Homo sapiens: one gene and its partner. The main gene of each other region encodes a partner of the protein of the gene in region 2 in a complex. Each region holds a gene or a part of one and is shown on either strand. Other genes may lie near its edges.

Region 1 (2,927 bases), on a different chromosome or scaffold from region 2:
CCTCAACTTACAATGGGTTTATCAGGATGTAAACACATCACAAATTGAAAATATTGACTAGGCACAGTGGCTCATGCCTGTAATCCCAGCACTTTGGGAGGCCGAAGCAGGTGGATCATCCGAGCCCAGGAGTTCAAAACCAGCCTGGGCAACATGGTGAAACCCCATCTCTGCAAAATATACAAACATTATCCAGGCATGGTGGTACATGCCTATAGTCCAAGCTACTTGGAGGCTGAGATAGGAAGATGCCTTGAGCCCAGGAATTCAAGGCTGCAGTGAGCTATGATCACACCACTGCACTGCAGTCTGGGGGACTGAGTGAGATCCTGTCTCTAAAACCAAAACAAATTTGAGGACAGGTGCGGTAGCTCATGCTTGTAATCCCAACACTTTGGCAGGCCGAGGCGGGCAGATCACTTGAGGTCAGGAGTTCAAGACCAGCCTGGCCAACATGGTGAAACCCCGTATCTACGAAAAATAAAAAAATTAGCCAGGCGTGGTGGTACATGCCCGTAGTCCCAGCTACTTGAGAGGCTGAGGCAGGAGAATGGCTCGAACCTAGGAGGTAGAGGTTGCAGTGAGCCAAGATCGGGCCATTGCACTACAGCTTGGGTGACAGAGCAAGACTCCGTCTCAAAAAAAAAAAAAATTGAAAATACCGTAAGTAGAAATGCATCAGGTTATAACCCAATAAGCCCATCATGAAGTTGAAAAATTGTAAATTGAACCATTGTAATTCAGATGCTTCTTGATTTAAGATGGGATTATGTCCTGATAAACCCATCATAAAGCCAAAACATCTTAAATTAAACCATCCTAAGTCAGGGACAGTCTGTAGGTAGTCCAGAATTGAAGTGAATTAGTGGATACCCAGCTGGCATCTACTGTAGAATTGACTGCTTACCTGATGTGTGTGGTAAGACCCCACCCATCTGGTATCAGAATTGTGTTGTGAGAGTGTGGCAGGAGAAACTGAGTCTGTTTATTCCTGTATACACACAGGGCTTCGTGCTGTGTCACTCCATCGCTGGGGGTACGGGTTCTGGCCTGGGCTCCTACCTCCTGGAGCGACTGAATGACAGGCAAGCCTGTGTTTGGGGAGAGGGCATTAACCCTGGTTCCCTGAGTAATGTCATTGCTTTTTTCTCTTGAGCTAGAAAGTCTGCCACTACCCCTTTTGAGTCATAGGGACAGACCCACCCAAGGACCATGTTGGAAGCTATTTTGGGGGGTGGGGGTTTACCTGTGGAGGGGAGGGGATCTACAGAGTTTGAAGCTTTCAGGCTTATCCTTTTTGGCTCTGAAGACTCAGTTCTGCCCTCACCCCTTTTGTACAAAATGGCACATATGGGCAGTGATGGAGGGGTCCTTCCGGTTCACTATGCCACCATCCTCTTTTCTCTCAGGTACCCCAAGAAGCTAGTGCAGACTTATTCAGTGTTTCCCTACCAGGACGAGATGAGCGACGTAGTGGTTCAGCCCTACAATTCACTCCTGACACTCAAGAGGCTGACGCAGAACGCAGATTGTGTGGTGAGCAAAGAAAGAGTTGAGGGGCTGGGTGTGGTGGCTCATGCCTGTAGTTCTAGCACTTTGGGAGGCCTAGGCAGATGGATTGCTTGAGCTCAGGAGTTCAATACTAGCCTGGGCAACATGTGAAACCCTATCTCCACAGAAAATACAAAAATTAGAGCTGGGTGCGGTGGTTCACACCTGTAATCCCAGCACTTTGGGAGGCTGAGACGGGCGGATCACCTATGGTTGGGAGTTCGAGACCAGCCTGACCAACATGAAGAAACCCCATCTCTACTAAAAAAACAAAATTAGCCAGGCGTGGTGGCGCATGCCTGTAGTCCCAGCTACTCGGGAGGCTGAGGCAGGAGAGTTGCTTGAACCTGGGAGGTGGAGGTTGCAAGGAGCTGAGATTGCAGCATTGCACTCCAGCCTGGGTGACAGAGCGAGACTCTGTCTCAAAAAAAAAAAAAAATTAGCCAGTCCTGGTAGCATGTGCCTGTAGTCCCAGCTACTTGGAGGCTGAGGCAGGAGAATCACTTGAACCCGGGAGGCAAAGGTTGCGGTGAGTCAAGATCACACCATTGCACTCCAGCCTGGGTGACAGAGCGAGACTCTGCCTCAAAAAATAACATAAAAAAAAATTAGCCGGGCATGGTGGCATGTGCCTGTAGTACTAGCTACATGGGAGGCTGAGGTGGGGGGATTGCTTGAGCTCAGGAAGTCGAGGCTGCAGTGAGCCATGATCACACCACTGCACTCCAGCTTGGGCAACGGAACAAGACCTTGTGTTTAAAAAAAAAAAAAAAAGGGTAGAGGACTTTGGTCTGTCTCCTCAGGCCAGTGAGTCTCATTCACCCCACCTTTCCTCAGCCCCTATACACACAGACAGAAGACCAACAAAGCCATACCTGTGGGCCAAATTAGGAAATAAGGTCCTGACTTCTAAGTTTCTTAGAATCCTTTTAGGCAGCAAAACTCTCAACAAAGTGAATATACCTTCCCCACACCACCACGTATCCCACCTTTGCCTACTTAATGCCCACTCATGCTTGTATTCTTAGCTCAAGGATAACTTTCTTAGCAAAACCCTTCCTGACTACTCAGTCAAGATCAGATTCCTATATGTGTATTTTAGGGAGTTAACTATAATTTTCTGTTTTATATTTAGTGTGCCTCCCTCCACGAGACTATAGGCCTAATGAAGGGAAAGACGGTGCCTGTTCCTCTCTGTGGTCTTCCCAGAGCCAGGCACAGTGTATGGCACATGTGGGTACTCACGTGTTTGTTTACTGCCCTGCGTAGTCCGAGAGTATCTCATGGTGCCCCAGAAACAGTACTTTTCTTTCTTTTTATTTTTTATTTATATTTATATATATATATATATATTATATATATTTATACTTTTTTAT
Region 2 (4,132 bases):
CAGGTCTCCCTCCTTTTCTCTCTCTGGGTGGAAACGGTGCGGCCTTACCTGCAGACGGTGGACGAGTGGATCGTGCACGGGCACCTGTGGGATGGCGCCAGGGAGTTCATCATCCAGAGGTGAGCTGCAGCAGAGCACAAGGTCACTGGGGGCTGGCATCACCAGTTTCCTCCCCATGAAAATCAAATGCTTTCGTTAGTTTCAGACAGTACTGAGAAAGCACAGTTCACATCACAGAACTTGTCGTCATCATAGGCAAGTTCTATCTCATTTTTACGGAAGGCATCAGTAATACCAGCTGATTAGAAATATCTTTGTCCAAGTTTTGTCAGTCCGCAACTTTTCTTAAGCAAATTATATTTTTGGATGGTAGTATATTTATGGCTAGCTAGTACACACTGCTTCCCATAAAATGAGTTTAGATGATATCATATGGTTTCAGCTATTTCCATTGTAAATTATCAGTAAAGAGATACAGAAATATTACAGAGTATGCCTCTAATATATTTATTTCTCTGAATTATCTACTGATTTCTTTTACCTTAGTATATTTTACAAAACAAGGAAAATCTTAATCCATTTATGACAATTTCCCTTCAGTTAATTGATTTTTCTGAATAGAATCATATAAACAATGTAGAGCTATTTGTACTCTTTTAGCCCAATTTTAAATTATGCGGTATATTTAGATATATGGTTTCTATTGATAGCTATCCATTGAGCTCATCAGGAAGGATAACTTTAAGTCTTTAGTGTTCTGGAAGGGTAGCAATATGTATGCAATGCTCACATAAGTGAACTGACCCTTCCTTCAACTCAATCTCATATCTGTCACTGTGTTCTGATTCATCAATCTCACATGAGAATTTTTGTGAAAAATAGGACTCTGACTGTTCTTCTAGGGTGATGATTGACCATCATTTTATTGTTAAAAGTAGTCCAGTTAAGAATCTTTGTAGGGAAAATGATAGAGAAGTCTGCAAATTAGTTTCACAGCAGATGGTAAATGGATAAACTTTTATTCTTCTTCTAAAGAGGACCAAATTAGTCATATTTTAAATAATTCCAATTCAGGAAACTATTTCTACTTAAATTTTACTTACACTATTCAAAGTATTTATTCACTTTTCTCTTTAAACTGAGATGAGATTAAAACTGTCCCATTTTGCCTAAAGTTTGCTTCAGTTTACTAATAATTAATACTATGTTTTATAATGTCTGGACAACAAACTAGAACAAGTATGCTGTTTTTAAGAAAGAGAAATAAGAGTTTAAAATTCTTTTGAATCTCTTTAGAAACAAAAATGTTCCAGTTAATCACAGAGACTTCTGGTATGCAACTTACACGTTATATAGCGTATCAGAAAAGACAGAAAATGAAGAAAAAATGAGTGATAACGCTAGTGCGAGTTCCGGCAGTGACCAGGGGCCCTCCAGCAGGCAGCACACCATGGTGTCCTTCCTCAAACCTGTCCTGAAGCAGATCATAATGGCTGGCAAGTCGATGCAGCTGCTGAAGAACCTGCAGTGTGCGGAGAGCACCACCTGCCAGGCAGGAGCCAGAGGTACTTGTTCCGTCTTCCTGTGTCTCTCTTGGTGTTGGGACACCTGACCCTACTCGCTCTTGTCATCCTGATACCTAATTATTTTGTAGTTTGCAAGTCATCAAACCCTCTTATTTCGGTGGCAATTATCGTCATGGTTGAATTAGTAACCATGCTGCTCTTGATTTTTTAAAAGATTGTCTTCATTGAAAACTTTTAGTGCTGTGTTTGAAAAGGCAGTGACGATAAGTTCCACATGCATTTTCCTCACTCTGGATTCCTTAGGACTGGAACTTTAAAAAGTAATCCCCTGCCATTTCTTTTCTTTTATTATTTTTATAAATTGACATAATAATTGTACATATTCATGGGGTACATAGTGATGTTTTGATACATATATAGTGATCAGATCAGGATAATTAGCACTTCCATCATCTCAAACATTTACTACTTCTTTATGTTGGGGACATTCAGTATCCTCTTCTTTGCTATGTGCAACTCTATAATACATTATTAACTATAGTCATCCCATAGTGATACAGAGCACTAGAACTTATTCCTTCCAGCTAGCTATTTGTATCCTTTAACAAATATCTTCCTCTTTCTCCCTTCCCCCTACAAAATCCAGCATCTGGTATCCTGTTCTACTTTTTACTAATACGAGATCAACATTTTTTAGCTACCAGATGAGTGAGAACATGCAGTGTTTAACTTTCTGTTCCTGGCTTATTTCACTTAATGTCCACCATTTCCATCAGTGTTGCTGCAAACAACAGGATTCACTCTTTTATCTTCAAGATATATACATATATATATATATATATCTCACAATTTTTTTACCCATTCATCTGTTGTTGGGCACCTAGGTTGATTCCATGTCTTGGCTGTGTGAATAGTGCTGCAGTAAACATGGGGGTGCGGATGTCTCTTTGATATCCTGATTTCCTTTCCTTTGGATAAATGCCCACCAGTGGGATTGCTATATCATATAGTAGTTCTATTTGTAGTTTTTTGAGGAACCGCCAAACTGTTCTCCATGGTGTCTGTACTAGTTTATGTTCCCACCAACATTGTGTAAGAGTTTCCTTTTCTCCACATCCTCACCAGCATTTATTTTTTGTCTTCGTGATAAATAACCATCCTGACTGGGGTGAAATGATACCTCATTGTGGTTTTGATTTGCATTTTCCCTAATAATTAGTGATGCTGAGCATTTTTTCATCTATTTCTTGGCCATTTGTATTACTTCTTTGGAGAAATGTCTGTTCAGATCATTTGCCTTTTTTTTTTTTTTTTCCTGAGACAGAGTTTTACTCCCATCACCCAGGCTGGAGTGCAGTGGTGCAATCTGGGCTCACTGCAAGCTCTGCCTCCCTGGCTCAAGTGATTCTCCTGCTTCAGCCTCCTGAGCAGCTGGGATTATAGGCACCCGCCACCACACCCGGCTGATTTTTTGTGTTTTTAGTAGAGACGAGGTTTCACCATGTTGGCCAGGCTGATCTCGAACTCCTGACCTCAAGTGATCTGCCCGCCTTGGCCTCCCAGAGTGCTGGGATTACAGGCGTGAGCCACCGTGCCTGGCCTCATTCATTGAATTCTTTCACTGTAAAATTTGTTTGTTAAACATCTGTTTCTGTTGAATTTCTCATTCAAATCATTCTTTTCCTGATTTTGTTGAGTGTTTATTTGTACTGTCTTGTATCTCACCGAGTTCTCTTGTATCTCACCGAGTTTCCTTAAGATTTTAATTCTGAATTATTTTTCCGGCATTTCCTATATCATTGTAGTCTCTTGCTAGAGAATTATTGGTTTTCTTGGGAGGTGTCATGTTTCTTTGCTTTTTCATGTTTGATGTATTTCTACATTGATTTCTACACATCTGGTGGGAAAGTCACCTTTTCCAATTTTATGGAGTACGTTTTGTAAAGAGTTATTCATATGAATGGGTCTTGGAGTGTGGGTTCAGTGGGATGCATTCACCTTGGTTCTGGACAAATGCAGTAGTATAGTCTCCATGTACTTTCTTCAGTTGTAATCCACTTTAGTGATGTTTGCAAGTGCCTCAGTGGCCTACAGTGAGGGGGTTTGTGGCAACAGTGGCACAGTTGGCTGGGCGTGGTGGCTCACGCCTATAATCCCAGCACTTTCTTTTTTGAGACAGTCTTGCTCTATTACCTAGGCTGGAGTGCAGTGGCATGATCTCGGCTCACTGCAAACTCTGCCTCCTGGGTTCAAGTCATTCTCTTGCCTCAGTCTCTCAAGTAGATGGGATTACAGGCATGTGCCACCACGCCTGGCTAATTTTTGTATTTTTAGTAGCGATCGGGTTTTACCATGTTGGTGAGGCTGATCTCAAACTCCTAGCCTCAAGCAATCCACCCGCCTCGGCCTCCCAAAGTATTGGGATTGCAGGCGTGAGCCATCACGCCCAGCCAATCCCAGCACTTTCGGAGGCCAAGGCAGGTGGATTACTTGAGGCCAGGAGTTTGAGACCAGCCTGGCCAACATGGTGAAACCCTGTCTCTACCCAAAATATAAAAATTAGCTAGATGTGGTGGCGCATGCCTATAATCCCAGCTGCTTGGGAG

What was found. The genes of interacting proteins can lie anywhere in the genome.
Region 1: TUBGCP5 (region 2) and TUBG2 share a complex: the UniProt entries of both Homo sapiens proteins name them as parts of the gamma-tubulin ring complex.

The regions. Positions count from the first base shown.
Region 1 is NC_000017.11:42,661,968-42,664,894, forward strand, and holds part of TUBG2 (tubulin gamma-2 chain), read left to right. Parts: intron 1-1,005; coding exon 1,006-1,085; intron 1,086-1,409; coding exon 1,410-1,536; intron 1,537-2,927. UniProt on the Homo sapiens protein: Tubulin is the major constituent of microtubules, protein filaments consisting of alpha- and beta-tubulin heterodimers. Gamma-tubulin is a key component of the gamma-tubulin ring complex (gTuRC) which mediates microtubule nucleation.
Region 2 is NC_000015.10:23,015,206-23,019,337, reverse strand, and holds part of TUBGCP5 (gamma-tubulin complex component 5), read left to right. Parts: coding exon of another isoform or gene 1-3; coding exon 4-119; intron 120-1,296; coding exon 1,297-1,565; intron 1,566-4,132. UniProt on the Homo sapiens protein: Component of the gamma-tubulin ring complex (gTuRC) which mediates microtubule nucleation.